Linked DNA regions of Homo sapiens: region 2 is linked to region 1. The links come from fine-mapping of genetic effects on gene expression. A gene starts in region 1. The other region holds a variant in brackets. All regions are shown on one strand. Distances are from middle to middle. Region 1 holds the start of PDGFA (platelet derived growth factor subunit A). Region 2 has its middle 31 kb from the start of PDGFA.

Region 1 (15,404 bases):
TCTGGCCGCGACAGGCCACTTCCTTTCTCTGCCCCATGAGCTCGGGTCCCCTCCACCTCAGCCCTGCTGGTGAAGGTCAGATTTGTGCTTCTGCTCAAGGGAGGTGCTGGTCACCCCGATTTGGGGTCTTTTCCATGGGGCAGGGCCGGCGTCTCATCCTCTTCCCTCAGCAGAGGCCGAGGAAGGTCAGGGGCGCGGGGGCTTGGCCTGGCTCCTTCGCCTCTCCCGATGTCTAACCTGCACCTTTAGACAGCGGTGAGGCCCTCAAAACCGGATGGAATGAGGGACCACAGGCTGCTCCCAACCATCCACGGTCACGAGAGGAACAGAGGCTGTGGGCAGCGCCCAGGGGAAGCGCTCTGGGGTTGGCCTGGGCTTTAACCGGGTGACCCCAGTGACCTGCCGGATGACTCAGGCCCACGCCTGCCCCACCTTGGAACTCGGAATTCACATCCAACATGCAGGAACTTGGGCCTTGAGTCTGAAGCCCTTGGGGATGGGAGGGGTTTGCGGCTTTGGCCTGGGAGGGGCAGTGGTCACTAAAGTTCAGGCTCCCCAATGCCCTCACTCCCTAGCCCCGCTCGGCCTGGCTGCTTCTCAAAGCTCAGTCTGCCCAGCCAAAACATCTACTCAGAAAACGTCTCTTCCCAGCCAGGCCTCCCCCTGCAGGGGTTGGAGAGAGGAAGGGAGAGGACACGGCGAGGCGGGGAGGGAAGTGGAGAGCAGAGGCCCTTGAGGACCTGTCCTCTCCCACTCCCTTCCAGCTGCCCTGGGGGGTGACTCTGTTTCTACGGGAGCCATCTGGGTCTCTATTTCTGTGTCTCCACGCAGAGTCCGCAGCTCCCAGGGAAACAGGCCCCGGAGGACAGGGGTCTGGGTTCAAATGTCACCACCACCACTACTTGTAATGTCAGCCTCCTCACCTGTAAAATGCAGGTGTTGGATGTGATGGCCTTAATTTCTAGGTGAGATCAAGATGCTTCCCTGGTTTTCTCTGACTGCACAGGACTGGAGATGCCCCCTGAGAAGCCCAGCTGGCTGCCAACGGGAGCTCTGGAACAGGGAAGGATCTGTGGGCACGGTGGAGAGACGGGGCTGACTCAGCTTCCGAGTTGCTTTCTTGCTGTTTTAAGAGCCAGACCCAGTGGAGGCAAGGAGCATAGCCCGAAATAGCGACGGCGGGAGTGTTTACACCCCAGCTATTGGCAAGTGCTAAGAATTGAGTTGTCTGCAGCTGCCAGGAACCTGCTGGGCGTTTCGGAAGCCTTACCTCGTGCACTCTTCTTACGGTCTCCACTGCAGCCATCTGGAAGCCCAGCCACCCTCATATGTCACCCAGATGACTGCACACCTCCCTGTCCTCCTCCAGCCCCTTCTCCATGAGGGAGCCGTGTGAAACCACGAAGCAGTGTTAGAAGCTGCCTGTGCACACACTGGCTCTCCCTCTGTCCGGGATGGAGTTTCTGCGTCCCCTCCTCCAGAGGCCAGGAGGGCTGGGGACAGCTTAGGCTGAGAGCGTACAGAGGTGTGGTGCTGCGCACCTGTACTGCTAGATCTGGAAAGGGTGTATTGCCTCCACTGTGGGCGTGGGAGCACGAACACAAAGCCCTCTGCCATCCCAGAGGCAGCTTGACCCTGGAGGCCTCCATGCTGTAAGGAAGCCCATGCTGGCCCCCAATAGGCCACGAGACGGAGTTGAGCCCACCTGAAAGTGGGGGATGCAGGCCAGCCCCCCTGTTCCCCCAACCTCACCGCTCCCCCATGACAGCTGCAGCCACCAACCCTGACTGTAGCTGCAGGACAGACCCTGGGCCTGAACCCGCTGGCTGAGTCCACCTTAAATTCAGTATGCGAGAAATGGAGACAGAATAACACAATTATTGTTTATTTATTTAGTTTTGAGACAGAGTCACTCTGTCACCCAGGCTGAGTGCAGTGGTGTGATAATAGTTCACTGCAGCCTCAAACTCTTGGGCTTAAGCAATCCTCCTGCCTTAGTCTCCCGAGGACCTGGGACCTTAGGCACATGCCACCAAGCCTGGCTAAGTTTTAGGGTTTTAGTAGAGACGGGGTCTTGCTGTGTTGCCCAGGCTGATCTTGAACTCCTGGATTGAAGCGATCCTCCTGCCTTGGCCTCCCTCCCAAAGTGCTGGGATGACGGGTGTGGGCCACCGTGCCCGGCCCCTTCTTCCTTTCTGCCACGACACCTTGTGTTCCTGCCTGAGGCCCTCCAACGGCTTCCACTGCCCCTAGAATAAAATCCAGAGCCTTCCTTTGGTCCCAAGGGCAAGCGATCTACCTCCTTGTTCTGTGAACAAGCCACGCTGGTTCCCGCCCTGGGGCCTTTGCACCTGCTTTGTCGTGTCGGCCTGGAGTGCCTGACCTAGATGTTCTAGCTGTTGTCAATTGACTTCTTCTCAGACTCCTCAGACAAGGCCTTCCTGACCTGGGCCTGAAATCCTTTGCCTGAAGGGCTGCACTCGCGCGCTCTCTGACTTATTGTTCCTCCTCAGAGAGTGAGGGCTCCGTGAGGGCCTGGTCTTAACGCCGTGTCCCCAGCACTTAGTACAGTGCCTGGCACATAAACCTGTGCTTCAAGAACGTGTAGATATTTCCTAGAGCAACCCTCTGAGCTGGCTGTGGCCCAGAGGAGCAAAATGAGCCTCCGGGAGGCTGACAGCGAAAGTCATTGTAATCATGTTTATTTAACACCATATATCCAAAATGTTTTTTTCAACCTGAAATTCATACAAAAATTCCCAATTGAGAAATTTTGCATTCTTTACTAAGCCTTCGAAAGCTGGCATGTGTTCTGCCCTTACCGCACTGCACAGTTTGGACTGGCCACGTCTCTCGTGTCCAGCGGCCACACGTGGCCATCGCTCCTGGGCTGGATGGCTCTGGTCTAGCTAGACTCTCGGCTTTCGTTTCTTGAAGCCTCCAAACATCCTTTCATACATGTCTTCATTCACAAAATGTTCACACAGTGATAGTGGGCTCCTGTGCTATTTTCAACTTCATTTCTGTTTGTGTATTTAAAATAAAATGATTTAATAGGGAGTTAAAACAACATGGAGAGAGAGCCTTCCCACCCTGCTGGCGGGGCAGTTATCTCCCTTTCTGGAGAGTGTGAACTGGAAAGGCCTGATCCCTAGTCGCTGGGGGCCTGAGATAATGACTTAATTAATGCCTGCGCTGGGCAGTTTTGATCTTCAAGGAGTCCAGCCCACTCGGCTGGTGTTGCTTTTGGATTAATTGCCTAGGACGAAGAAAGCCTTGCCCAGAGATAAAGGGAAACGTGGGGTTTCGTCATTACAAATTGTTCTGAAATCTGCTCTGGCGCTGGGGGCAGAGGCCAGGATTTGGGTGCTCAGCTGGTCCCCCCACCCCCAACCCAGGTGCAGGCAGGTGGCCAGCAGGGCGCTTGCCCAGGGCACGCTAGCGCAGCTTTTCCTGGGCAGGTGGGCAGGAGGGAGGCTTCCCGACAGTGGAGGCAGCTGTGTGCAGTGACGGCAGCTGTGTGCAGTGACGGCTGTGGGCCTCACGCTTTTCAGATGAGGGAACAGACACCCAGGGCAGTCTAGGGACAGAGCTCACCAAGGCCAAGGTCAAGGGGCAGAGAGCGGAGGGAACTGGCCTCTGCCCCCCTCCCTGCACCTTGGAACTGGGGATCCAGGGGGTGTTGGCTGCCGCCCCTACTCCTGGGTGGCCACAGCGTCTTTCCTGTTCCTGCCTGTACACCCCACGTACAAATGCCCCTGCGAATTGAGGATAGTCTATATTTACCGAGGTTGCAGAGGTACCCCTGGGGTGCTGAGCCCCGCTCCAAGTCTTCGCTTAGAGTTGATGCGTGAGTGTCCATGAAATTATACAAGGAAAGAGCTTGGCACCTGGCGCCATCGACGTCGCTGTAAATGTCAGCCGTTACTACTACTACTAAATAACAACGACGGCGATCGCTGCGTGCCTGCTGGTGCCAAGCCCCGGAGGGGCCCCGGACACGCAGCCTGGGTGGGGATGGGTATGAGGGGGCAGCGCTGGACTCGGCGAAAGTTTCTTCCCCTCTCCAGTCCCCTACCCAGAGGAATGGCCAAGGCCTTTCCCGCCCTCCCTGGGTGCCAGGGTCTTGGGGAGGGGCGGGAGGCAACCAGTCCCGGGCAGACGTCCGGCCACCCGCCCCTGCTGCGCGACGGCCCCCCTCGCTCGGCCTATTTGGGGCACCTGACTCACGGTAATTATGAGCCCGCGGGCACGTCGGGGCGCGCCGGGAGAGGCCGGATGCACCGGCTCCGGGGGCGACCGGACATCCCAGGCCGCCAGGTGCACCTTGCTTCCCACCAGCACCTCCCCGCACCCGCCGGGAGCTCCCCGCTGCTTCCGCCAGGGGCCCCGGGCTCACCTCGGGGCGCCCACGGACTCCCAGACGCGCGCCTCAGCATGGGGTGCGAATGTTTCGGGGGCGGCGCGCGGGGCGCGTCTGCCTCCCGCACAAAGCCAGGCTCTGTCCCGGGGTCAGCGCCTCTGTCTCCCGGGCCTGGGCGGGGACGCCCACGCCTCCTCCGACGCGGGAGTATATTTAGCCTCATTATCAAATGTTTGCAGTGAACTGTGTGAACCGACTAATAGCGGCTGGAAGTGAAACTCGATTCCTGGCCAGAAAGAAGCATGTGACCGCCCCCGTCTGCAAGGATCGCGGCAGGGCGGGCGGGGCAGGTGCCGCAGCCTCCGCGCGCAAAACCCGCCGGCGGGGCCCGGGTCGCACCGTCCCCTCCTGGGCCGAGCACCTGAAACCCACCTCGTCCCTCCGTCCCCCTCCCCAGGGGCTGCAATGAGGACGCTGGGAGTTTGAATGGAAACGAAGGCCGGGGAGGGGGGTCCGCGCGGGCGTGGGTTTTTTATCCAAGTCGGTGACCTCTTGGTTAAGTCAGCCCTGCGGTTTCAACGCCCAATCCCCCCAAAAAAGCCTGTGGGGGTCCACGTCTCCTTGTGTCTTCCGGGGATCCGGCGGAGAATGTGGCGGGGCCGGGCAGGGGGGTCCCAGTCCCACGCCGGGTGCGTCGTGCCCCGAGTCTCCCCAGAAGGCGGCTGTCGCGCGGCTGCACAAGTTTTCGCCTCCCTCGCGCGGCCGCTGTTGTTGTGGTCGCCATGGCGACGGGTCGCGGTTTTATTTTTAATAGCGGCCGGCGATTAGAGAGATGCCTGCACCGCTTTCGCCTAAGCTCTGCGTCCCCCGCGGGTGAAGCACCCACGCCCCGCCCCAGCCCCCGCCTCGCTCCAGCGCCCCTTGCACGTCCCCAGGTGGCCCTAAACTCTAGCTGGGCGCACCCGTAGCTCCAGGCCGGGCAGGGGAGCCGAGGGAAGCAGCCATCTAGGCCCTCAGAGGCGGCGAGGACCCCCAGGATCCCTCAAGCTGGGAGGGACGGGTACCCCATCCCCAATACAACGCGACCTTCCTCCTTGCCTTCCACACCGTCTTACCGAGTCCTCTAACCCCACAGAGGTGTCCTCGGGCCCCCTCTGCGCGCGAGCAGTCCGAGGCCCAGGAAGACAGGATGCGCGCCACTCCGGGATAACTGGCCGAAGAATGAGGCCGGGGTCCGGCCTGCGTCCTGGCCCTGCGAGTCCGGCTCTTTCCAGAAGCCATGCAGTGGGTGTCCCCTCCCAAGCCGCAAGTTCCCCCTGGAGGGACAAGGCCTGGCTTTAAGGGGCTCCTCCACGTTTCCAAGGCTCCCCTGGTTCTGTCCCGGTCCCGCTTGGTCCTGACCACCCAGAGGGCATGCTTGACCGCGGGGGTCGTGGTGTGGGGCTGCGGCCAACGGAAGGGAGAGACGTGGGGAGGGGGCCTGCAGGTGTGTGGAAGGGCGCGTGTAGACGCGACCCACTGGGAGCGGAGGGAGAGGCGTCGCTCCCCAAATATTTGGGGGAAGGGGAGAGCCCCCGAAGCGCTCTCCGGATTCGGCCTTTGAAATGCTAGAGCTGGCCTAGCTGGGGATGAAAGACCGCCCGCGGGGCTGCGCCTTAACGGCCTTTGTCTGGAGGGAGGGCGACCGCGACGGGGGCAGGGGTTTAATCGACAGGGTTGGGGGTGACGGCTGGGCCGGGCGGGATTCTCCGCTGCTCACCCAAGGAAGCGTCTCCTGGGCTCCAGGGGCCTAGGCCGTCTAGCCTCGGGGTCTGCACAGCACGCCACCCCGCTGGACCCGGTACCAGGACGCGTAGACCCCCTGGCAGGGCACTGACGAGCACCTGGACCTGTAGTCAGGGTCCAATCCCTCCTGGTCTAGGGAGGCGAAATCCATCCAGCCCAGGCGCACCCGCCCTTTCTCGGCGTGGGAGCCGTCTAGCCACGCTCAGACCTCGGCCTCCGCGCGCGTTCCTCCCCCGCATCGCGCTCTGAGCTGCGCCTCGGCCGGAGGTGGCGCTCTGTGCGCCCCACGGATCCCGACGCGGGAGGCTCAGAACCCGGGGGACCCTCACCGGTGGCTCCTTTCCCTTCCATCCCCTCGACTTCCCGGCTCAGGGCGCGGCCCTGCCTTCGGCGCGGGAGTGGGGGACTGGGGGGCGCGGGGTCCCAGGGTGGGGACGAGGCGGGCTGCAGGCCCTTTCCCCGACTGGAGCTCGCTCCCAAGTGGAAATGTGGGTGGAGGGTCCTCATTCAGATGCCCCAGGCCTCGGATCCTGGGCGGGGGCGCGTGGCAGCCGCCAGGTGAGTGCCCCAAACCCGCCCCCCTCCTTCCCCAAAGACTGACTCCCCCTCCTTTTATGGAGAGAGGAAGGCTGGGGCCCTGGATCCGAACCGTGGAGAGCGGCCGGAGCGCCGGGGCGGGGGCGGGGACCGGCTCTCTGGCCCTTTTTGGCGCAGCAGCTCTGGGCGCTGCCCGCTGCCGCCGCTGGGGCCCGAGAGAGGCGAGCCGGCGACGGCGGCGCTTCTGCGGCGGCCTCCTCCCTCCCCACCCGGTGCCGCAGGATTGCAGCTGGCACTGGAGGGTGGGCAAGCTCGAGGGAGGGGCGCGGAGCCCCGGCGCGGAGCCGGGCGCGGGGCTTTGATGGATTTAGCTGCTTGCGCGAGCGCGTGTGTGCTCCCTGCCGCGGCGGCGGCGCCCGGGCCCTGCCGGGTCCGCACGAACCCCGAGCGCTTCCGAGGTGCGGGTCCCAGGCCCGGAATCCGGGGGAGGCGGGGGGGGGGGGCGGGGGCGGGGGCGGGGGAGGGGCGCGGCGGCGGCGCTATAACCCTCTCCCCGCCGCCGGCCGGCTCCACACGCGCGCCCTGCGGAGCCCGCCCAACTCCGGCGAGCCGGGCCTGCGCCTACTCCTCCTCCTCCTCTCCCGGCGGCGGCTGCGGCGGAGGCGCCGACTCGGCCTTGCGCCCGCCCTCAGGCCCGCGCGGGCGGCGCAGCGAGGCCCCGGGCGGCGGGTGGTGGCTGCCAGGCGGCTCGGCCGCGGGCGCTGCCCGGCCCCGGCGAGCGGAGGGCGGAGCGCGGCGCCGGAGCCGAGGGCGCGCCGCGGAGGGGGTGCTGGGCCGCGCTGTGCCCGGCCGGGCGGCGGCTGCAAGAGGAGGCCGGAGGCGAGCGCGGGGCCGGCGGTGGGCGCGCAGGGCGGCTCGCAGCTCGCAGCCGGGGCCGGGCCAGGCGTCCAGGCAGGTGATCGGTGTGGCGGCGGCGGCGGCGGCGGCCCCAGACTCCCTCCGGAGTTCTTCTTGGGGCTGATGTCCGCAAATATGCAGAATTACCGGCCGGGTCGCTCCTGAAGCCAGCGCGGGGAGCGAGCGCGGCGGCGGCCAGCACCGGGAACGCACCGAGGAAGAAGCCCAGCCCCCGCCCTCCGCCCCTTCCGTCCCCACCCCCTACCCGGCGGCCCAGGAGGCTCCCCGCGCTGCGGGCGCGCACTCCCTGTTTCTCCTCCTCCTGGCTGGCGCTGCCTGCCTCTCCGCACTCACTGCTCGCGCCGGGCGCGCTCCGCCAGCTCCGTGCTCCCCGCGCCACCCTCCTCCGGGCCGCGCTCCCTAAGGGATGGTACTGAATTTCGCCGCCACAGGAGACCGGCTGGAGCGCCCGCCCCGCGGCCTCGCCTCTCCTCCGAGCAGCCAGCGCCTCGGGACGCGATGAGGACCTTGGCTTGCCTGCTGCTCCTCGGCTGCGGATACCTCGCCCATGTTCTGGCCGAGGTTGGTGCCGCCCCCGCGCCCCGTCCCTGCGCCGGCTCCTCCGGCGCACACCCCCCGCCGGCTGGGGCGCCACGGGCTCTGCAGAGAGCGTTTTGGTTCCTGCCAGGGTGGTCGATGTTTAGATTTTCCCAACTGGGTTCTATTTTCTGCCATGCCTAAGTGTGTGTGGGGAGTTTCCAGCGTGTTGCGTCGGTCGCTCTGCCTCGGGGGGACCGGGGAGCAGCGAGGTGGACGAGTGGGCAGAAACTTCGGGGGGCGCAGTGTCCTCTCCGGGGAAGGGGAGCTGGGGCGCAGCGGGCGCTGCAGCAGCGGGGTGCGGGGAGCGGGGAAGGGGGTGTGTGTGAGCCGGCGGAGCCTGGGGAGGAGAGAAGGGCGGCGGATAAATAGGTAGGGGCGGCTGCTGCGGAAGCCCCTGGCCGGGCAGGGTGGGCAGCGCCAAGCTGCAGCCCTCGGTTCCCAGTCCCCAAGCCCGGCGGGGCTCAGGGCCGGCGCAGTCCCGCCCGCCCGGGCCTGCTTACAGGTGGCTGAGCGAGGCGAGCTGGGGCTGGGCCAGGCGTCCGCACCCTCCCACCGCGGCGTCCCCGCCCCCCCATCCCCATCCCCATCCCCATCCCCGGGAGCTTTGCTGTGATGAATGACTTTCCACAGCCCCCGTCGTGGGAACTTAGTGCTTCAGGCTCCCCAGCGACCCCCGACTCTCCTTAAAAATCGGGGAGGGGAGTGGGGGAGGCCAGAGGTGAGGGTGGTCTCCGCAGGGCACGGAGAGCTGCGCGAGGTGGAAGTTTAACCCTCGCTTTCCCTGGAGGCTTCTTCTCCCGGCCGCCGGCTGGATTTGGGCGTCTTAGTCGGCGCTAGGGCCGCGGCTGGGCCGGAGCCCGGGGTGGGGCGAGTGTGTGAGTGAGATGTGTGTGCGCGTGTGTGTGTCTGCGCGCGCGTGCGTGTGTTTGTGAGACGGAGAGACCTCTCCACGGGTTCGGCCCGGGATTCCGGGGCGTGAAATTTAAGCCCTGCCTGGATTAAAGTGTTAGGGCTGCCGTGACTCTCGCCGACCCGTGACGCATTTTAACTTGATCTTTCTAGATGTTGATCTCACTATTAAATCAGAAACTTTCGGCCCCCTCGCTGCCCCCTAGACCTTCTGTAACTGACACCCCGGGTGGAGGGGCCGGAGTGCGGGGGCTTTTGTCTGAAAATATAAAGGGGGGGGGGCTTTGATTTTGCAAAGGGCGGAACATGGATGCGGGTGGAGAATTTGGGGTCTCTTCCAGCCCCACCCCCGGCTTCTGGTTCCAGGGCCGGGGCGAGGGCTCCGCGGGGGCTGGGGCGGGGACTGCGGCCGGCGCTCGCGGGGTCTCCTCGGGCCCGGGGCGGCGGCGCTCCTGGCGGCCGGGGGCGCGTGCCGGCGGGGTCGGGGCCGCGGGCGCTGACCGTGTGGCCTCTGCTTGCAGGAAGCCGAGATCCCCCGCGAGGTGATCGAGAGGCTGGCCCGCAGTCAGATCCACAGCATCCGGGACCTCCAGCGACTCCTGGAGATAGACTCCGTAGGTAAATCGCGCCCCTTCCCTCCGCGCGCGGGGAGGGCGCGGGCGGGCGGCCTGTGCGCCCCGAGCTGGGGCCGGGCGGGGCGCCGCGCAGGAGCGCACCGAAAGGTCAGAATCCAATCCCCAGCCATAAGCGCCCGGGCGGATGAGTCAGGAGTTTCTCTTCCAGTCTCCACTTTCTCTCCCAGCGGCGGCCGAGGGCTGCTCGCTCGCCCCGGGATTGTTTTCGCCTTTAAGGAAAACGCCGCGTGTGTCACACAAAGTTCAGCCGCGGCCTCCGCCAGGTGTGCGGGCCCCGCGCCTGCCCTCGGGCCGGGGGAGCGGCAGGATCCGGCCCAGACCCTGGGCGCAGAGCCCTGGCCCGTGCGCCGGGCGGGCAGCCCGCGGAGCGAGGCCCCAAGGGCAGGCGCGGCTCCCGGTCCGACGGGCGGGCGGGCGGAGGCGGCCCCCGGGTCAGGGCCCGGCCCCCTCTGTAATCCCTGCGAGCTGGTGCCGCGTTCTTGCCGCAGGGCTGGGCCTCTGTGGCTGCAGAAGCCGGTGTCTTTCTGTTTTCACGACCCAATGAAAAGCCTTGGACGCATCTGCTGCCTGGGGGCTATTTTTGCGGCTCACCCTCGGGCCCTGGGGCCGGGCCACTAGAGAACACAGCTTGTTTGCAAGCACAGAGTTTTGCTGCGGGTTGGCAAGGGTTAAAGGGGCCTCTCACCCCGGGGGACCCCGGTGGACCACGGGTGGGTGGGAGGGGCGAGGGTGTAGGGTGGCCGCCCGCCCGCTCAGGGCTAGAGAGCCCCTTCCTAGAAGGCGAGGTCTCTCTTCCAGGCGTGCGTGGCGCTCTTTTCAAAATGAGCACTCGGCCTGGGAACTCCAGTCGGAGCCTTAACCTGGTTTAAAAAGGGGCTCTGCGATGAACTTGTTAAAAAGAGTAACTAAAGGCAGCAGAATTGGAAGAAGTTACGTGACATGAAGATTCTTCTCTCCCTGCAAAGGACTCTGAAAAAGGGGGGGCATGCGGGGATTAAGTGAAATCACATGGTCTAGTCATTTGGAAATTTGTACCTAATTATGGTGGTGGAGAGGCCTGAACTATTTTCGTTTCATGCCAAAACCATTTTCTAACAAGGCCGATGGTTTCTGTAGTTTCTTGACCCAGGAAATCCCTGGGCTGATCCTTATCGGGGGCGGAGGGTGGGGGGTGCGGTAGAGTTTCACTCCCACAGCACAGCTGGGCGGGGGGATTTTGACCGGATCCCTCAGTGGATAACTCTAGGGAAAAGGATCTGGCTCTGGTTTGTGGGGGGGAATCCCTTGCCTGAATCTCGCTGGTCCTGGATGGGTTTGGAAAAGTGGGGGGGGGGGGCTGCTTCCTGGAGAAGGTTTCAGGGCTTTTTCTGGGGGGGGGTGCTAGCAGAAGGGGAGGCTTGTGGAGAGCTGGGCCTCCTCGTGGGACTGGCTTTGGAAGCTGCAGGGAAATGGGCCATTCACTTTCTGCTGGGACTATTCTTATTCTGGTCTTGGCGCCCCGCCTCCTCCACCCCCACCCATTATCGCCTTTAGCATTGCAGCTTCGTGGGGTATGCTGATGGCATTCCTCACCCGGGGGCTTCTAGGTCGTAGGGTCCGAACAGAAAAAAACAAGGATGCCCCTAAGCTAGTCCTGGCCGGTTTCAAATTCCCTCTGCAGTCATGTCCCAGGAGCTCTCTCCTCCTGCCCCAGGGAATGCAGAGTGGATCTCAGCCCTCCTGTGTCCGTGAGAGGTTTTGGGGTCTGAATAGGATTCTCCTAGTGTCTGGGAGGCTTTGTGTGTGAGAATATGGGGGTGGCATCTACCTCCTCTCTTGCCCCTGGTGGGGGACCTTTTGTAACATAGGGGGGCCTCCTTGGTCCTGTCCAGTCCCCTCCCCAGGTGTGGCTGAAAACAGAACCAGAGAAACCCACAGTCTCTCGCCTGAGGACAGGAGAGGCACCGGCTGCTCCTCCAGCTTGTAGGGGGTGTCTTTTCTTCAACTCCCGTTCTCTGTCGTAGGGAGGGTTGTAAACTGGTTGAGGTCAGTTCTCATTGGGTAAGCATCCCTCCGGGTCCTGGACTCCCTTTTCAATCCAGAGGTGCTTCTGGTCTGTTAGGGGCAGGGGACAGTGCAGGGGCTCATGAGGAAGGGGCTGGGTGCTGGGAGAAACCCAACGCAACGAACTTTCCCTCGGAGTCCCTTTATAACCCTTCCAGGCTGATGTTCTTGGCATTAGGTGCCTCTAAGGCCCACGCTGTAGGAAGCAGAAAAGAGGCTTTGAGGAATCCCAGGGGTGCGCCCCAGCTATGCTGACTCCTCCTCCAGGTGGGTGGGGCTTTGTGACTGGCATTTGGCTCCTCCCAGCATGCAGGCTGCGTCCCACTGTACAGTTGGGGAGACTGAGCCAGGCACCGTCTGGGGTCTTGGCCGCTCCTTGACTGTGGCTGGAGGAGCACGGGTAGTGGGATTCCTCACCATCCTCCCGGAGCCCAAGCGTTTCATTCGGAGGGTGTGCTGGAGTGAAGAGTGAAGGCTTTTCACCTGTGGCTTTTAGATCCAGAGGCCAGCATGTGGTCTTTTAATGACCGGCAGCCCGCGTTTAGGGCCTGTTTGTCCTGTGTGCAGTGGCAGCTGGGGAGCTTTGTTCCCCAAAGTGGTCTGGCCTGGCGCCCGTGGTTCATTGAGCGGCTGATAACGTAAATAGCCCCATCTCGGGCCAGTAATGCCAGACCAGGACTGATGGTTGGGAGATTCTCCCTGTCCTGGAGTTGTCCTTGGGACATCTGTGCCTAAAAGACAAAAGGGAAAGCCTCCTGGTTAACTGTCCTGGGAGCAGTTTTAGGGGTGATTCTTGCCGGCCAGGCCACCTGGGCCTGGGCTGCTCAGAGCTGTGTTTGGTGAGCTGTGGGCGGCTTTGGTGAGCGTGGTCCACTCTCGGCATCTTGAGCTGGGAGCAAAGGGTGGGCTTGGTAGACTGGGAGCTATTCCCCCTCTGTCCCTTGTCTCAAGAAATTTGCCAGCTCAGGCTTTCTGGGGGTCAATGAGCTAGCACGGCTGCCGTCTTCTCTGTTTATTAAGCCAGGGCTAGAGGGTGGCGGGGCACGGGGACTGTGCTCTGTGGACGCAGACCACATGAGTCTCCTGCGAGCCACTTCTGGTCCTGTTATATTTCTCTGGGCCTCAGTTTCCTCGGATGTGAAGAAGTGATAGCACCCACCGCACACTCAGAAGCTAAGTCATTGGTAAAGCAGCTAATGCAAACGTGGCTATCACAAGGCATCGGAAAATGGGAGCTGGTGTTATTGAATTTTCTCCTACGAGTGGAGAACGGACCCGTTACTCTTTGGTTTGGCCATGGCAAGATGGCCACCACCAGGATGTGATTCATAAGTGTCACTTTTTCATGAAAAGAAATGCTGCTTGTAACAGTTGGTTGATGGGAAATTCTTACTGCATGAGTAGTTCTGTTCTGATCTTATTTTGGGTCTCAAAAAAAATTAGTGTCATTGGAACATTGAGTCATTTTCGGTAAAAAGTTGGGCTCCGGGCGAGCTTCGTCTTTGCCTGACACCTTCTGTGAGGTTTGCGGGCTTCATTTTAAATCCGCAGGCTCCTCGGGGGTGCGGAGGAAGCTGAGGTTTCTCCGGTTGGTTTGTGGATAGTCACGGATGCCTCGATGGGCTGGGGAGAGACACTTTGGGCTGCTAGTCCTGAACCCAGGAGGTGCAGAGCCCATTAGCCGTCTGGATTGGTGACCGGGACTTCCCAAGCTTCCCAGGAGGGGGCAGGGAGATCTCTGTGCCTCTGGAGCATCCTGGCTGTGAGGCTCACTGTCTCCGCGCCTGTTCACCCTTGGTTATATGGTGGGGGGGGCAGGATGGAGGGAGATGGGAAGAGACTCCCCAGCTGGGACCAGGGGGCCAAGGCAAGGAGGCCCAGAGCCACCCGCGGTGCCCAGGTGCGGGCAGTGTGTCCATGGGCAGGACTGTGGGTCCTCTCCCTACTGCGGGATTTGGAGAGACCTGAGACTCCCCCAGCCTGTCTGCTGTAGCCGTCAGCGCCTGTGAAGGGGTGGTGTGTGCAGCTGGGTGGGGTGGCGGGGATAGGTTCTCAGTTCTGCTCCCCGGTCAGTGCTGGTCTTGGCTCTGGGCCACTGCCCCACCTGCACCTGGCCGCCTGGCTGTAAACACGGCTCGCAGATGCCAGCTTCTCTCAACCCCTCTCCGCAGGCCGCCTCCCTCTGTCAGGCTGCGGGAACTCCTCCGTGTAGCCTCCACGAGAGGCCACGTGCCCTCCTGCCTCTCCTCATGGCCGCTGGCCCTAGAGTAGACTCATTTCAGGAATGAGTGGGGTCTGGCCCGCAGCCCAGTCTGGCGGCTTCCAGTGCCCCTCAGAGGTTAGGCCACTTCTTCCAGGAGTGCTTTAGTGAGGGGGAGGGAGGGAGACGTACAGGCACCTGCAGAAATCTCAGCGGCCTCTGCTTCTCCCTCGCTCCAGCCCCCAGACAGAGGTGGGGCCTGGCTTAGCCCTGTGCCCCTCGGGGAGGTGCACGGAGCTGGGCGGCCTCAGGCCCCTCCTGCCCCGGGGCAGCCCTCACCTGGGCTACCTTGGAGGAGGCACCGTAGGGGAGACCACCTGCAACCTCTTCCCCGAAGGGCCCTGCGCTTCGTCACGGGCCCCTGAATGTGGGGACCTCTGTGCTAACGGGGCGTTTTCTGCGGTTTCCAGTGTTTCATGCCCTGCATCTCTGGAAAGCCCTGGTGGGAATCGAGGTTCTCCTGGAGGGCCCCTAATGGCGGGAGCTGTGAGGGGCTGTGCCGCCAGGTGCCTGTTCCCCAGTGGCTCCCAAAGCTGGTCTGTGGGAAGTGCGGCTGGACAGGCCCAGGGCACAGCGCACGGGCCTGGGGCATTCACGGTGTTCTCCTTCCGCCTGCAGGGAGTGAGGATTCTTTGGACACCAGCCTGAGAGCTCACGGGGTCCATGCCACTAAGCATGTGCCCGAGAAGCGGCCCCTGCCCATTCGGAGGAAGAGAAGCATCGGTGAGTCCAGGAGGCCGCGATGGGCAGGGCAGGGCCGGGTCAGGGTGAGTCCAGGAGGCCGCGATGGGCAGGGCAGGGCCGGGTGGGGAGGAGCTGCCCGCTCTCCCAGCGCAGTGGCCTCAGGCAAGCCACCCGTTCCCTCCTCCCTAAAATAGGCCTGGCCCTGGTGCCTCTGGCTCTGGCCTCTCCCGAGGCCTCCCTCCTTCGAGGGTGTCTCCTGCCCCAGCCCGCCTGCTCCTCCTGGAGTCCTGGTCTGGGCCAAGAGAGCTTCCAGGAGAGAAGAGCCATCATAAATTCCTTAAGCGCCCTGTCTTGTCGGGGCCTGTCCCCAGGAGCCTTGCCGGAAACGTGGTCGCGCCTAATTTCCAATTCGCAGTGTGGGCATCGTGCTCCTGCGCCGGCTGCTGAACTGGTGGGGACGCGCGTGCTGTGTCCGGCGGCTGCCCCCCGACACCCTCACCACACCCGTGTGCCCCGCCCCACTCACACCTGGCTCCAGGGCTCCACCCCCGCGTCCATTTGGGGGATATTTTGTCCCTTCTTACAGGACAGCCCCATGGCCCTCCAGCCCCCTGAGGAGGAACTAGCAGGTTTGGGGAGTTCAGGGGCCAGTCCCTGCTTTCTACCCAAGTCCCGCGTCCTCGGGGGTCCC
Region 2 (15,404 bases), 31 kb after region 1:
TGTGGCGGGGGCTGTGGTCTGAGGCTGGATCCTTTCCGAGCCTCTCCACCCACGTGGGCCTGCAGCCTTTGTCGCGGCTCTGCCCTGCGTTCCCGGGATTTCTGCTCCTGCCTGGGCCCCCTCCCGGCCCCTAGCCCTGGGCTGCACCTGGATCTGGGCTCAGGAAGGTGACTTTCTGCCCAGGGTCAGCTCTTCATGTCTTGTGAGCCCTGTGACCTTGACCGAGGGGCCTCCATCTGCATGTCGGCGTGCACATCTGTGAAACGGAGCTGCAGCTCAGGCAGGGTAAGGACGCCTCGCCATTGACTCACCTGGTGCAGGTCTTGTCTGCTGCCTCCTCCTGCTGGGACTTCACTCCAGCCTCTAGTGTTTCTAGGCCCCAGCATGGCAGAGGACAGAGCCCTTGGGCTCAGGGATTGCTGAGCGGCGATGGTGCCGCCTGTTAAAACGAGGTTCCTGCACCTGCCTGGACACCTGAATGCACCTGCTCACACCGTGCCCTTGCCAGGGGTCATGAGAGCTGGGGCCCAGCCTTTGCTGGGCTTCTCCTTTAGCTTGGGGGTGTTTCCTTTTCTTCACCCAGGCCTCTGTGTCCTGGCTGTGGAGGGGGTTGGAACTGGCTGGGAGAGTCAGTGACGGCAGGTGGTCTCCAGCCGTGGGTCCCTACAGCTGTCTTGGGATTCCCAGCGGTAGGTGAAGCCGAGGCCTGGGTCTTTGCCTGGGTCCAGTGCGCAGAGCAGTTGCTGGGCTGGGCCAGGCTCGGGGATCCCGTTCTGCAGAGAAGCCCTTCTGGTTTGTGCCCTCTTGTCAAGCACAAGAAGCCACGGCCCTCCTGGGACCTCCTTGGTTTTTTTGGGCTTTTCATACTTAGCCATGGGTTCCTCCAAGAATTCTAGGGGTGGGAACTTGAGGGCTTGGCTCCCATTTTAAAGATGAGTGAGCTGTGCCCCTGGCAGGCCCGGAACGCCTAGGGGGCCCCAAGTAGAAGGGTCGCAGGACACAGAGAGGCAGGACTTGTGCTGTGGCCGGGCATCCAGGGGCCCTTCCATCTCCTGGGCCTTGACTCTGCCCCACCCCAGGGGTGGGCTGGGCCCCAGACTCCGGAGCAGCATTGGGGCGGGAGCTCCCCAAGTGCCTGCAAACAGCAGGGCCAGCCAGGCTCTTCTGGGGTTGTGTCCTGGGCAGGTGCCCAGCCTGGGACTGAAGCTCCTTGCCCTGCACCTATCACCAAAGGGCCAAGATTCACAGAGATTTGCCTCTGCATGCTCCCTGGAAATGGGGTCAGCAAGGACCAAGATACAGACCCCAGGGAAGATGGCGACCTCCAGGTCCAAAAGGAAGAGCAGGTATTTGAACTCAAGTAGCAAAAATCACAGAATTTCCTGCACCCCACAGACCCCCGTTCCCTCACAGAAGCCCCCCATCCTCTCACAGAACCCTGGTCCCCTCGTAGATCCCCTGTCCCCTGACAGATCCCCTGTCCTCTCACAGATTCCCCCGTCCCCTCACAGATCCCCTGTCCTCCTCACAGATCCCCCATCCCCCTCACGGATCCCCCGTCCCCCTCACAGATCCCCCGTCCCCTCACGGATCCCCTCCATCCCCCTCACGGATTCCCCCGTCCCCTCTGTACAGCCGTTTCCAGGAAGTCCTGGTCCTGAGGTCCCCGGGTTTCCGGGATGGGCAGGAGGAGGGGACACAGGCCCAGTCCTGAGAACGGGGACCCCAGGCTCCCGATACGTGGACGCGGCCCGGGGCCAAGGCTGGACCGGAAGTGGCAGGTTCCCGCCGCCTGTGGGTTCCGCCGCTTCCCGGGGCGCCCGGCGAGGGTGACAGACCCCGGGAGCGCTGTGACCGCCACCCGTGCCCAGCGATGAAGCTGAAGGTGGCCTCCTCCGTTTGCAGGGAGAATTTTGGTTCCAGGCTCCGGCGCCCCGGGGGCGGGCGGGCTAGGAGGGTCGGTGCGGGCGAAGGAGGCCTGGCCCTTGCGGCTCCCGTGCCGGGGACCCTGGAGGTGGGCGCGCCTCGGCCCCCAGCCCCAGCGGCCGACGCCGGGCTCCTCCCACGGCCCAGCCAGCGCCTCACAGTCCGGTGGCCCTGCCCCTGCGGCCACGCTGGCCGGCTCCTGACGCCTCAGAGCCTCAGTTTCCCCCCTAGCCGTCGGGAGGCGGGTGCGCCGCAGGATGAACCCGTGAGTGGCGCTGAGCAGGGTGGGCGGCGGCTGTGGCAGCCCGGGAGGACGTGGGTCCCCAGAGCGCCGAGGCGGGAGGAGAGTCCCGAAGAGCATCCGCGAGGGGTCGCCAGCCGGGGAGAGTGGTGGGGCCTCTGAGCCGGGAGGGGGCCGAAGCGTCTCCCACGACCTCGGCGCGGTGCCTGGTCTCCGCGGGGTCCGGCTTCCCGGTGCCCCCTTACCCTGCGCTTCTCCAAGCTGACAGCCCCAGGTGTGGGGCCTGGGGTGGGGCCTGGCATGGCCTCGTGCCTCCTACTCTTAGGTCCAGGGGTGCCATGAACCACCCCCCAGCCCTGCCGCGGGATCGTCCCCCAGTGTCCAGGGGACCCGCCTGCCTCGCCCAGCCTTTCTTTTCTTTTCTTTTTTGAGACGCAGTCTGGCTCTGTCGTCCAGGCTGCAGTGCCGTGACACGATCTCTGCTCACTGCAACCTCCGTCTTTCGGGATCAAGTGATTCTTCTGCCTCAGCCTCCCGAGTAGCTGGGACTACAGGCACTTGCCACCACGCCGGGCTAATTTTTTTGTATTTTTAGTAGAGACAGGGTTTCACCATGTTGGCCAGGCTGGTCTCCAACTCCTGGCCTCTGGCGATCCTCCCGTCTCGGCCCCTCAAGGTGCTGGAATGAGAGGTGTGAGCCACCGCGCCAGGCCCCACCTTTCACTTTGGCTCCATCCGGAGTCCTGGGATCCGCTGGGTCTGAGTCCCATGTACCGTTTCTGTTGTGGGATAGATTTCCATCAGAAGCACAAGACAGAAAATGGGGGAGGACGGGGTTTCCCGAGGAAATCGGGGTGCCGTTCATAGATGAGGCTACTAAGTGGGATGTTGGGGGTTGCCTTGGCCTGGGTGCCCCAGAGGCAGAACCTGAAGGACAGAGTTGTGGGCATATGGTTTACGGGAGGGCAGATACCAGCAATACAGGGAGGGGCTGGGGTGTGAAATGTTCAAGTGGGAGACCTCACTGAATCAGCTCCGGGCTCCAAATCCTGAGACCTGGAGCCTGCACACATGAATGCCGGGAGGTTCCAGGATCCCCCCAGAGGCTTGGAGAAGGCCTGGGCAGGAAGCCAGGTGGCAGCAGCAGGAGCTGAGCAGAGGTGGGCAGGAGGATACATGCAGCCCGAGGGCAGATCCCGTGTATGCATGGCCCCAACTGCTCCGGGTCCTGCACCAGCCTCCCCATGGCTGGCTGCTTCTCACCTGGACAACCTTGTCGCCCACCCATCTGCGTGCCATCTTCAGCCACCTGCTCTCCCAAGAGCAGCCAGGGTTATCTTCTCCAAACCCAAGGCCACCTTGCTCTCCCCACCCCTCCTAGAGCCCCTGCTGCTCTGTAGGCTTAGAACAAAGTTGAGAAGCTTCCAGGGCTCCGGGCCCTGTCTGACCCTGACTGTCCCAGTCACACCCTGGCCCCTGTCTGCCACCTCATGACCTCAGCTGAGCTGGCTTTGTCGTGGCACAGGGGAACCGGAGCAGGGGGGCTGCCCAGGCTGAAGGAACGGGGTTGAAGCGCAGGACTTTTCTGATGGGGCGGCAGCTGGGAAAACGGAGTGAGTGGCCGGGGAGGGCTGTTTATGGGATGGCCGTCTGCAGGGCCTTGGCAACCAGAGCCCCCCGTCCAGACCTCCAAGCTTGCCTGGTGACAGGGCCCGGTGTGAGCTGGACCACAGGTACTTGGTAGGCCTGGTCTGGGTTGGGGTCAGGGAGTCAGAGTGCTTGGGAGACAGGTGCCCCCTCCCAGGTTCGGCCAAGCATGGGGTGAGAGTACTGGGCTCTGCTGGGCTCTGCCCAGCTGTTTGATGTTGGATGACCTCACTGTGACCTTGGGCTGCACCACTGCCCTGGTTGGAAGAGAGGGAGGCTCGGTGGGATGGGCTGAGCTCCAGGACCGCCAACCCTTACCCCCCTTTGCCCACCTGTGAGTGGCTTCCCTGATGGAAAGACTGAGTGAGAGGACTCCTTAGTGGCCGGCCCTTGTAGAGGCACAGAGCTGCAGGAGCTGTGGTGAGGGCCGGCACCATGAGACCTCTAGACCCCAGGCTCTTGAAGCGTCCCTGCCTGCCCTCCCTGAAGGACTTCCCAGGCCACCTTGCCCTGCCCAGCGCTGGGGGCTGAGTCCTTTCTGGGCACACCAGGTCACTTGGCAGAGTCCCTGGCCCCGAGCGGGCACTGAAGGAGGCCCTCGCACTTCTGGGGGCCCTGGGTCTTCGCCGTCAGCATTTGAGGCTGCTCCCGTTCTCCCTGGGGTGGGAGCCGGGACCCAGCGGGGCCTCAAAGGTGACTGCAGCAAGCGGGAGTTGGCCTGCCCCCTGGACTCCCACCCTGGCCTGGCACAGCTGGAGTCCAACCCCACTCCCTGAGGGTACTCAGATGAAAAGCGTGTGGTTTCTACAGAATAAAACAGCCACTGTTTCTATCCCGGCCTTTGAGCCACCAAAAAATGTGCAGTATTTATGATCCGGCCCCCGGTCACCCAGCCACGCACCAGCATCCGGCGGCTGAGGCCCCTGCTCGCCCCTCCCTGGGTGGTGGAAGCCATCCCGGGCCCTTCTGGTTTCTGAGCTGGAGCCTGGTGGCCCCAAGGCCCTGGACATGGGGCTCCACCAAGGCCCTTAGTCGTCTGGTGTGCAGGACATATAGACAGACAGAAACACCCCTCCTTGACTCTGACTTCTAGGCAACCCCAGTCAGGCAGGGAAGCCCATTGCAGGCCCTAGACCCAGGCTGCAGGAGCCACTGCCGACAGACCCCCCCATCCCCTGCGGGCCACAGAGCACCAGCTGCAACCCCCATCTGTCTCCCTCAGGGGACTCTGGGAGGAAAAAGCCCAGAGCACACACGAGGCAGGACCAGCCTCACAGCCCCTGTCCCCCACTAGGGCCATTGGTGCCAGTACTGTGACACCCCTTCCGGAGAGGGCTGGGAGATGTGGCTGTGGGGCAGAGGCTGGGTTGGGAGCCCCATTCTGGCACTTTCTGCTGCCCTTCCATACCTCCTTGCCAGGGAGGCCTGGCTGGGAATCTTTCCATCTAGGTGCTCCCAACACTGAGGCTTCCTTGTCCCTGCTCAGCCCCAGCAGGTCCCCAGAGGCGTCTGGGGAATGGCGCAGGTATCCCCCCACGTAGTCCCCAGCACGCCTGCCCCAGGGGTTCCGAGGTCTCACTGAATCCCCAGGGAGGGGTCAGCGGTCGGAGCTTTGGGTCTTTCCCTACAGCTGCATTTCAGAAGGGAATGCAGCCGCTCTGGCGTGCCGGGGCTTGTGGTCCAGAGAGGCAGCTGCCACCTGGCGTGGGAGGCTTCTCAAGCTTGTCAGGCAGAGACTCATAACTCAGTGGTGAACCCCACCTGACCTCAGGACCACCTGCCTGTCTCTAGTCCAGGCTCTGCCCTGTCCTGGGCTCCTCTGGACCTCCTGGCACAGCCTTGTGCTACTCAGCGTCCACTGGCACGGTCGACTCCCAAATCCCCTCCCCCAGGAACCAAGAGCTAGGACTTGTCTACACAGCCAGACCTCCAGCCCTGATGGATGGAAAAGCCTAGACCCTGCACTGTGGATGTCAGGGAGGACTTATGGCTACTGGGTCTCAAGAAAGTCACTTGTTTATTTTTATACGTATTTATTCATTTGAGACAGTATCTCTCTCTGTCGCCCAGGCTGGAGTGCAGTGGCGCGATCATGGCTCACTGTAGCCTCGACCTCCTGGGCTCAACTGATCCTTCCAGCCTCAGCCTTCTGAGTAGGTGGGACTGGTGTGGCCTCGGGGCTTCTCTTTGTTGCCCGGGTTGGTCTCAAATTCCTGGGCTCAAAGGATCCTCCCACCTCAGCCTCCTAAAGTGCTGGGATTATAGGCAAGTGCCACTGCACCCTGCCGAGAAGTTAATTTGTTTGTTCATTCTTGGCTCAGCAGAGAGTTGCATACCAAAATGGCTCAGTGAATTGGCCTGGTGCAGGAAAGGGAGGGGTGTTCTGAAGGTCATTTCTGCTCATGGGGGGTCAGTGACCTTCAGCAGAGCCTCACCCCTCTCTGAGCCACAGTTTCCTCAACTGTAAGGTGGTTGAACTGTTGGATTAAACCAGATTAGACCAGAGTTGCTCAGAATTTTGTACACAAGATGCATTCATGAAGGTTTGTGACTATGATATTTTTCTAAGAGTTTTATAGTTTAGTTCTCATATTTAGGTGTTTGATCTGCTTTCAGTTAATTTTTGTATGTGGTGTGAGGCAGGGGTCCACCTGCATTCTTTTGTATGGTGGAAATCCAATTGTCTCAGCACGATTTGTGGAAGAGACTCTTCTTCCCCACTGAATAGTCTTGACACCCTTGACAAGTCAATCAACCATGAATGTATAGCTTTTTAAATGAACTCTCAGTTCTATTTCATTGATCTATATGTCTCTCCCTATGCCTTGGGTCTTCATTACTGACATTGTGGTAAGTTTGAAATCCAAAATTGTGAGTCCTCCAGCTTTGTTCTTTGTAAAAACTGTTTTCTTTTCATTTATAATTGCCCTGGCTAGAAAGTACCTCCAGTAGAATGTTGACTAGAAGTGGCTGAAGCCGACATCTTTGTCTTGCTCCTGATCTTAGGGGAAGAGTTCTAAGTCTTTTGCCTTAGCTAGCTGTGGGTTTTATGTAGATGTCCTTTATTAGGGTGAGAAAGTTCCCTTCTATTCCTAGTTGTTGAGTGTTTATTTATTTTTGTTATGAAAAAATATTAGATTGTCCTTTTTTTGCATCAGTTGAGATGATCATGTGATTTTTATTTTTATTCTGTTAATATGGTATATTACACTGATTTTTTTTTTGTATGTTGAACCACCTTTGCATTCCTGGAATAAATCCCACTTGGTCATGGAGCACAGTCATTATTTTTGTATGTTGCTGGATTTGGCTTTTTAATATTTTATTTATTTAATATTTTTATTTATTGAAATTTTGTGTGTCTATACATGAGGGATAGTAGTCTGTAGTTTTCTTGTGATGTCTTTGTGTGGTTTTGGTGACAGGTTATGACTGGCTTCACAGAATGAGTTCTTTCCTCTTCTATTTTTTCAAAGAGTTTGGGAAGCATTTGTGTTAATTCCTTTTTAAATATTTGGTAGCATTCACCAGTGAAGCCATCTGGTCCTGGGCTTTTCTTTGTAGGAAGTTTTTTGATTACTAATTCAATCTCTTTGCTTACTATAAGTCTTCATATTTCTTCGGGCCTCTTTTTCTTGAGTCAGTTTGTGATTCTAGGAATTTGTTCATTTCATCTAGGTTATCTAATTTCTTGGCACACAATGTTCACAGCATTCCTTTATTATTTTTATTTCTGTAAGGCTGATACTAATGTTCCCTCTTTTCATTCCTGAGTTTAGTAATTTGATTATTCTGTCTACTTCTTGGTCAGTGTAGCTAAAGTTTTGTCTATTTTATTTTTTTCAAGAACCAACTTTTGGTTTTGTTAATATTCTCTATTGTTTTTCTACTCTTTATTTTTAAAATTTATTTCCCCCGTAATTTTTTTTTTTTTGAGACAGAGTCTTGCTATGTTGCCCAGGCTGGTCTTGAACTGGGCTCACGTGATCCTCCTGCCTCAGCCTTTCAAGTAGCTCTCTAATCTTTGTTATTTCATTTTTCTGCTTGTTTTGGGTTTGGTTTGGTTTTTTTTTCCATTTTTTAAAAGATGGAAGATTAAGTTATTGATTTGACGTCTTTTCTTTTTTATTTTAAAAAATTAGGAGTTTCTAGCTATAAATGTCCCTCTAAGCACTGTTTTAAGCTGCATCCCATAAGCTTTGGTAAGTTGAGTTTTCTTTCATCTCAAAGTATTTTCTGGTTTTCGCTGGGATGTCTTCTTTGACTTATTGGTTATGTAGGAGTGTGTTGTTTAATTTCCACATATTTGTGAATTTCATAAATTTTCATCTATTAATGATTTCTAATTTTATTTCATTATGGTCAGAGAACATACTTGGTATGATTTTCATTATTTTGAATTTATTGAGACTTCTTTTATGGCCAAACATATGGTCTATCCTGGAGAATGTTTCACGTGCACTTGAAAAGAATGTGTGTTTCTGGATGGGCGCAGTGGCTCACACCTGTAATCCCAGCACTTTGGGAGGCCAAGGCAGGCGGATCACTTGAGTCAGGAGTTTGAAACCAGCCTGGCCAACATGGTGAAACCCTGTCTCTACTAAAAATACAAAAATTAGCCGGGCATGGTTGGGCATGCCTGTAATCTCAGCTACTCAGGAGGCTGAGGCACGAGAATCGCTTGAACCCGGGAGGTGGAGGCTGCAGTGAGCTGAGATTGCACCACTGCACTCCAGCCTGGGTGACAGAGCGAGACTCCATCTCCAAAAGAAAAAGAATGTGTATACCTTTATGGTTGAATGGAGTGTTCTGTAGATGCACATAAGATCGAGTTGGTGTATGATGTTGTCCAGGTCTTCTACTTGCTGGTTGATCTTTGGTCTAGTTGTTCAATTTCAATTTGTTTTTGTATATCGTCCTTAGATCCTGCAACCTTGCTAAATTCACTTATTAGTTTTAGTAGAATTCTTTTGAAATTCCTTTGAGTTTTCTACATACATGATCATGTTATCTGGAAATAAGAACTGTTGTATTTCTTCTTTTGCATTCTGTATGCCTTTTATTTCTTTTTCTTGCCTTGTTGTACTGGCTGGGACCTCCAGAACAAATAGAAGTGACAATAGAATGGGCAATCTTGCTTTATTCCTGTTATTAGCTAGAAAGCAATGAGCCTTTCAACATTGAGTAAGATGTTAGCTGTAGCTGTTTTGTAGATGCCTTTAATGAAGTTGAGGAGGTTTGCTTCTCCTATTAGTTTTCTGAGAGGGTTTTTTGTTTTTCTTAAATCATGAAAAGTTGTTGAATTGTGTCCATTTTTTTTGCATCTATTGCATTTCATTGTATGGTTTCTGCATCTGTTAAAATTACCATGTGATTTTTTTTTACATAATTCTATTATTGTGAATTACATTGATTAGTTTTTCAAATGCTACATTAACCTTGCATTCCTGAGATTAACCCACCTTGGTCATTAAATACGTTTCTTTTTATATTGATTCTACTTGTTAATCATTTGTTAAGGATTTTTGTGTCCATGCTTAAGTGGGAAATTGTTCTGTAGTCCTCTTTTCCTGTGGTGTCTTTGGTTTTGAATCAGGGTTTTTGGAGAGTCACAGAAAGTTACAGCCACACAGAGACAAACACATAGACACAAAAACACATGGAGCACCACACACATTCACGTACAGGCACACACATTCACATACAGGTTCACACATTCACACACAGGCTCATGCATTCACACGCATTCACATGCAGGCACACTCACTCAC[G/A]TGCAGGTCCACACACAGGGACACACATTCACACACAGGCTCACGCATTCTCACGTAGGCACACGCATTCACATGCAGGCTCACACATTCACACACAGGCTCATGGAGTCACACGCACACACATGCTCACACAGGCATACACAGTCACACGCAGGCTCACGCAGGCACACGCAGGCTCATGCAGGCACATGCAGGCTCACATATTCACATGCCTCACACACAAGCGCGCCTCACACACAAGCACATGCATTCACACACAGGCATACACATTCACATGCAGGCTCACATAGGCTCACACGGGCACACACATTCACACACAGGCACGCACACATTCACACACAAGCTCACACACAGGCTCATATAGACACCCTCGAGGATGCTTCAGTCCGACGCGGAGTCAGGAGAGCTCGGACTCACTGAGGACCCTGCTATGGTCTGCAGCTGTGTTCATTTATCAGCTGGGACAGTGTGGGGTGCTCCTTGGACGCTGTCTGTTTCTCCCGCTCTGAGAAGAGCCCTGCCCCGGTTACGAATCCTTCATGACCGTGATTTCTGCCGCTTCCCGGGAGTCATCAGGGTACAGGGATCCCGCCTCCTGACAGTGCCCTTCTGCGGCCCTGTCCCTGTTCTGTGGACGAGGACACAGCCATCCAGGGGTGGAGCCGTGCATTCCAGGGCCCTTATCCTGTTCAGCCACCCCTCCCTCCCACAGCGTCCCCTCCCTGCCCCACCTGGCATTGGCCCCAACCCCCAGCGCCCTTCTTGGTGGCGGGTGTGGACTGCACAAGCTTGTGGCGATGGAAAGCTGGGCTGGGGCCAGACTTGGTGAGAGGCCACGAGAGCTGGCACTGAGGGGCCCTCGCAGTGGGATGCCCTGCCAGGCTTCTGGGGCCATGTCCCTCCTGTGGCTGTCCAAGCCCCACAGATGGCGATGCAGTGTGTACGTCCTGCAGCTCCTCGTGGCCTGGCGAGTCACAGCCTGTCCTGTGTTGATTTTGCTGCTCAGCAAGGGATGTGGGCAGATAGTGTCACAGTTATTTATCAGGAGGCAGAGAACCCCTGGCAGAAGTGGGTCTTGGGGAGGCTAGACTCACTAGAGCCCCAGCCTGGGAGCTGTGGCTTGCTGGCCTGCAACCGTGGACCCCAGCCCCTGGGGGCCCTGGAAGCCTGTTTCTCCATGATCAAGGGCCGTTTTTTGCGAGTGTTTGCAAGGGAGGAAGGGCTTCCTGCAGGATCTTCCCGTGTGATGTCTCTATGGGCTTTCTCCTGGGACAGGGACCCATCAAAGGTGGGAAGGGAGGGTGGTGCTGTCCGGGGAGGTAGGTGAGGGGACCACAGTCTGAGGTCCAAACTGCAAAGGGTTCACCCCGTAGCCTCCTCCCTCCTTCATTCCCTCCTTTCTTTTGTTCTCTCCCTCCTCACCTCTCCATTCGTTTTTTTGGAGCTACTGGGGCTGGAGCCGCCTCCTGGGATTGTGGCAGCCTTGGAAGATGGGTCCTCCAGTGAGAGCCTCGGGGCTGGGAGGAGAGGCCCAGGGTGCCGCAGTCCCAGTCCCAGGGTCATGGGGGGCCCTCGAGCGCGGGGGACCCTGGGGCCTCTGTGCAAGGGATGGCTCTGGGGCCCTGTGCTGATGGAGGACTCTGTGTTTACCTAATGAGGGGGTGCATGGGGGTTGGCAAACAGCCCTTGACTGCTGGCGGAGGCTGTCGGCTTGGGTGGCTTCCAGAGGCCCCTCAGCCCTGCATACCTTCCTCCCGGGCTCCAGTCCCGCCTCCCCCACCTTCTCGAACACAGACCTGCAGCGACCCTGAACAAAAGGAAATCCCTAAAGCTAATGTCCATGGGGGCTGGTGGGAAGTGAGCAAGAGTGGGGGTGGGGTCAGGGCCCTCGGAAGCAGGGGTCATGCGGGAGTGGGAGTGTCCCCCTGCCTGCCCCAAGCCCAAGGGGAAATACCTGAGTGAGCCCTGGCCCGTAGGAGGCGTGTGAGGAATGTTCCAAAAATCCTAGGCTGAGTGAATGAGGCCCTCACCCAGGCAGGGTCTAGGGCCAGGGACAGAAAGGCTTGTCTGAGGACACACTGGGAGCCAGCCCGTCTTTGGGTGACCCCAGACGTCACCCCAACCTGGATTTCCAAACCAGGTCCCCCAAGGCTCTGGCCCTGAGCAGGTGGAGGAGGGGAGGGGCAGGCAGACACAGTGTCGGCTTGGGGGAACGGGGTTGGGGGTACGGCAGAGGGACGGTCCCACATCTAGAGGCCAAATTCAGGACAGCCTAAAAAACACCCTCCGGAAAAGGCAGCCCAAATCATCTCATGTGCTTCTGAAATTCTTGCATTTTCCCCCTCAAAATCTGTCCTAGTTATGCTTGAGATCTCCTGACCCCAGAATACTTTTATTTATGACAGAAAATTCATCTCCATGGCAACGCCTTAGGAAGCTGCAGCCTCAAGATTATAACTTCCCAAGCAATGAAGACAATAAATGGATTTTTCACAAAACGGCTAAGAGCGACTCTGGCAAGAACCGGCCCCTCTCTGCAGTCTGGGGAGGGGGGGTTGGAGTTGAGAGGGGTGAGGGGACAGAAGGAGTCCCTAGGGCTGAAGTAAAGCCCACCAATGTGGTGGGTCTGAGGGAGGAAGCTTCACATTGTCTGTGTTCCGGCTTTTAAAGAGCAGCGCACTTAACCCCTTCGTCAAATCAAACATGACCCTGGGTTGCCCTAGAGGCCCTGAGCGAGCATCACCACATCAGGCCTGGCAGGCGCCTGCACACTGCAGTGTCTGAGCCCCTCAGCCACCTCCAAAGCACACATTTGTGCCTTGTCTTCACTGTCTGAGAAACAGGCATGGAGGATGAAGGAGGTCTCCTTGTCCCAGGGAACCACAGGAGCCTCTCTCTGGCAGCCTTTAGGGATCCAAGGCTGGAAACCCCTTTGCAAATAGCTTGGAGCAGCTTTCCAGGCTCAGCCCAAATTCCACAGTGAGGGGGCAAGTACTGGCCAGTTCCAGCAGAGATACTTCCTCAAATCAGATGGTGCGCATTGCAGGGGCCTCAGTTGGACATCAAGGTGGAGCCATCCCCCTGGTCCTAGTTCCTGTCATCCATCCATCCACTCATCCATCCATCCATCCATCCATCCATCCATCCATCCACTCATCCATCCATCCATCCATCCATCCATCCATCCATTTTTTAACCCATACCCGCGTATTTCACCGCCAGTCTTCCCATCCCACCCATGTTGTGCAGCCCCTTTGTCCATGATACCGAGGCTGTCCCTTTATCCCCGCCCGCCCAATATCCCACGGGTGGGGGGGCCAAGGACTGGCCCAGGTCCCCGCCAAAGTTCTTCCTCAAAATCAGGATGGACCCATTGGCAGGGGCCTCAGTTGGATATCAAGGTGGAGCCATCCCCCTGGTACTAGATCCTCTCATCCACCCATCCACTTATCCATCTATCTATCTCTCTATCTATCCATCCATCCAACTATCCGTCCATCCATCCATCCAGTCATGTGTCCAACCATCCATCCATCTTCTATCCATCCATCGAACTATCCACCCATTCATCACTTACCCATCCATTCACTCACACATCCATCCATCCATCCATCCATCCATCCATCATCTATCAGTCCAACCAACCATCTATCATCCATCCAAGTATCCACCCACCCACCCATCCACCCATCTGTCCAACCATCTATCATTCATTCAACTATCCACTGATCTACCCATCCATCCATCCATCCCTCCATCCAGTCAGTCATGTGTTCAACCATCCATCCATCTATCATCTATCCATCCATCAAACTATCCACCCATTCATTCACTTACCCATCCATCCATTCACACATCCATCCATCCATCCATCCATCCATCCTTCCATCCATCAATCCATCCAACCATCTATCATCCATCCAACTATCAACACACCTACCCATCCACCCAACTGTTCCAACCATCAATCATTCATCCAACTATCTACTGATCCATCCATCCATCCACCTATTTATCTGTCCATCCAATTATCCACTCACTCACCTACACATCCATCTACCCATCATCTACTTACCCTTTCACCCTTCCATCCACTCATCCATTCATTCATCTATCTAACAATCTATCATCCATCCAACTATCCACCCACTTGCCTACCCATTCACCCATCCGTTTATCCAACCATCAATCTGTTCAGCCGTCTATTATTCATACAACTATCCACCAATCCACCTATCCATCCATCCATCCACCCATTCATCCATCTATCCATCCATCTATCCATCCAACTGTCCTCCATCCAACCATCCATCCATCCATCCATCCATCCATCCATCCATCCATACAACATAAGTTCTTGAGCACCTAACAGGGACCTGTCACTCTGCCAGACACCATGAATTTCTTGCCTTCCTGGAGCTAACCATTAAGAGGGAAATTTAGACATTAATCATACACAAAAAGGAACATAATCGTAGACTGAAGTAAGTGCCTGAAGGAAATGACAGCAGTGACTAGTGCTGCTTGGGGGCAGATGGGGTGTTAGATGCTTTAGGTTTTAATTCTCACAACCACCCATGGGTAGGTGCTGCCAGAGACCTATGCTTCAAAAATGGAGAAGTTGAGGCACAGGCTCAGGAAGGATCTTACACCAAATCTTGTAAGTGGAGGAGTCAGAATGTGAACTTGGCCCTTCTGAGTTTTTAATCTCTAGGCTATTCTGCCTCTCAGGTGGGTGGGGAGGGTCCATAAGGGCCCCTGATCTGGTCTAGTGGGATCTCTGGAGACTCCCCACAGTGTTATTGAACCCAAGGACCAGCAAGGGATGCAGGTGAAGCACAGAGAAGGTGGCACGCAGGAGGACCACCGCATGGGTTGTGCTCATTCAAGGCAGGAGGGCACTAAGAAGCAGGACCAGCCCCAGCGGTGGGGAGGGGAGGGTGGGGAGGGGAGGAGGTTGGGGAGGGGAGGAGGGTGGGGACAGGAGGAGGGCGGGAAGGGAGGGAGGAGGGTGGGGAGGGGAGGAGTGTGGGGACGGGAGGAGGGCTGCCCACCGTCCTGGCCCCCCAGAGGCACCAAGCCCTGCAGATGAGCTGCGCATGAGAAGGAGAGAGAGATTTATTAAGAGCGGTTCGCCGTCAGTATCCAAACCTTCACAAGTTAGACAGAGTCGGTCTTCACTGGAGGGGGCATTCCTGGGCCCAGCTGCTCTTCAGAGCCTGCTGGAAGCAATTAATTAGCGGGACCAGGTACCTGTGTCCTGCCGGGCTGGCCCCACCTCGGCCTTCCTCTGGAGCTCCTGCAGCCCCAGGGAACCTGTCCCCAGCTCACGGATCTGAGATCTGCAGGGGCTCACACTTAAACTGTGGTGCCCTCTGACCTGGCCTGATTTCCATGGGAGCCCATGGCCTGAGGGGAGAGGAAGGACAGTGCCAGGCTTCGGAGAGGGGCTGTTTTCTTTTCAGGCTCCCTGGAGCCCTGGCCAGCTGCCTCCCCTCCCAGGTTCCACCTGGACTCCTCCCTGCCCTCCGCAGGGCCCTGCCTGGCCCTCTTTTCCTATCAATCAGAAAACAGCGACCTGGCCTGCACCTGACACTTCCTCCATCTCCCCTGGGCCTGGCCTCGGGCTCCTCAGCAGCCCTGGATTTGGCCTGGAGCCAGGGGTCTGGGCAGAGGAGAGTGCTTGCTCGGGACGAGGAGAGGCAGTTCAGGGCCTGGAGGGGACTGGGTGAGCTCAGCCTGGGGCTTCTCCGGGAGGCTGGCAGCTAGAGAGTCCTGTCTCCAGGGGCAGACATGCACACAGGGAGAGATAAGCTTGC

Evidence for each region.
Region 2: its variant is fine-mapped to the expression of PDGFA in whole blood (INTERVAL, PIP above 0.99).

What each region holds. Positions count from the first base shown.
Region 1 is chr7:511,699-527,102 of GRCh38, reverse strand. PDGFA (platelet derived growth factor subunit A) reads left to right here and starts at 7,257. Exons shown (of 6, transcript NM_033023.5): 1 at 7,257-8,164; 2 at 9,613-9,709; 3 at 14,648-14,752. The coding sequence starts at 8,102. It overlaps PDGFA-DT (PDGFA divergent transcript), which reads right to left and starts at 6,712. Exons shown (of 3, transcript NR_033963.1): 1 at 3,787-6,712; 2 at 2,823-3,023; 3 at 1,871-2,249. RefSeq lists silencers at 4,153-4,462, 4,783-4,922, 5,043-5,122, 6,788-7,127, 7,228-7,317 and 3 more and enhancers at 4,778-5,699, 7,544-8,465, 9,388-10,310, 10,980-11,481, 11,857-12,151 and 1 more.
Region 2 is chr7:480,786-496,189 of GRCh38, reverse strand. No RefSeq gene overlaps it. Among named protein-coding and RNA genes, the nearest start is that of PDGFA, 31 kb to the left of the region's middle. RefSeq lists enhancers at 1-743, 3,991-4,770, 4,771-5,550. The variant G/A (reference allele first, on the strand shown) is at 9,586.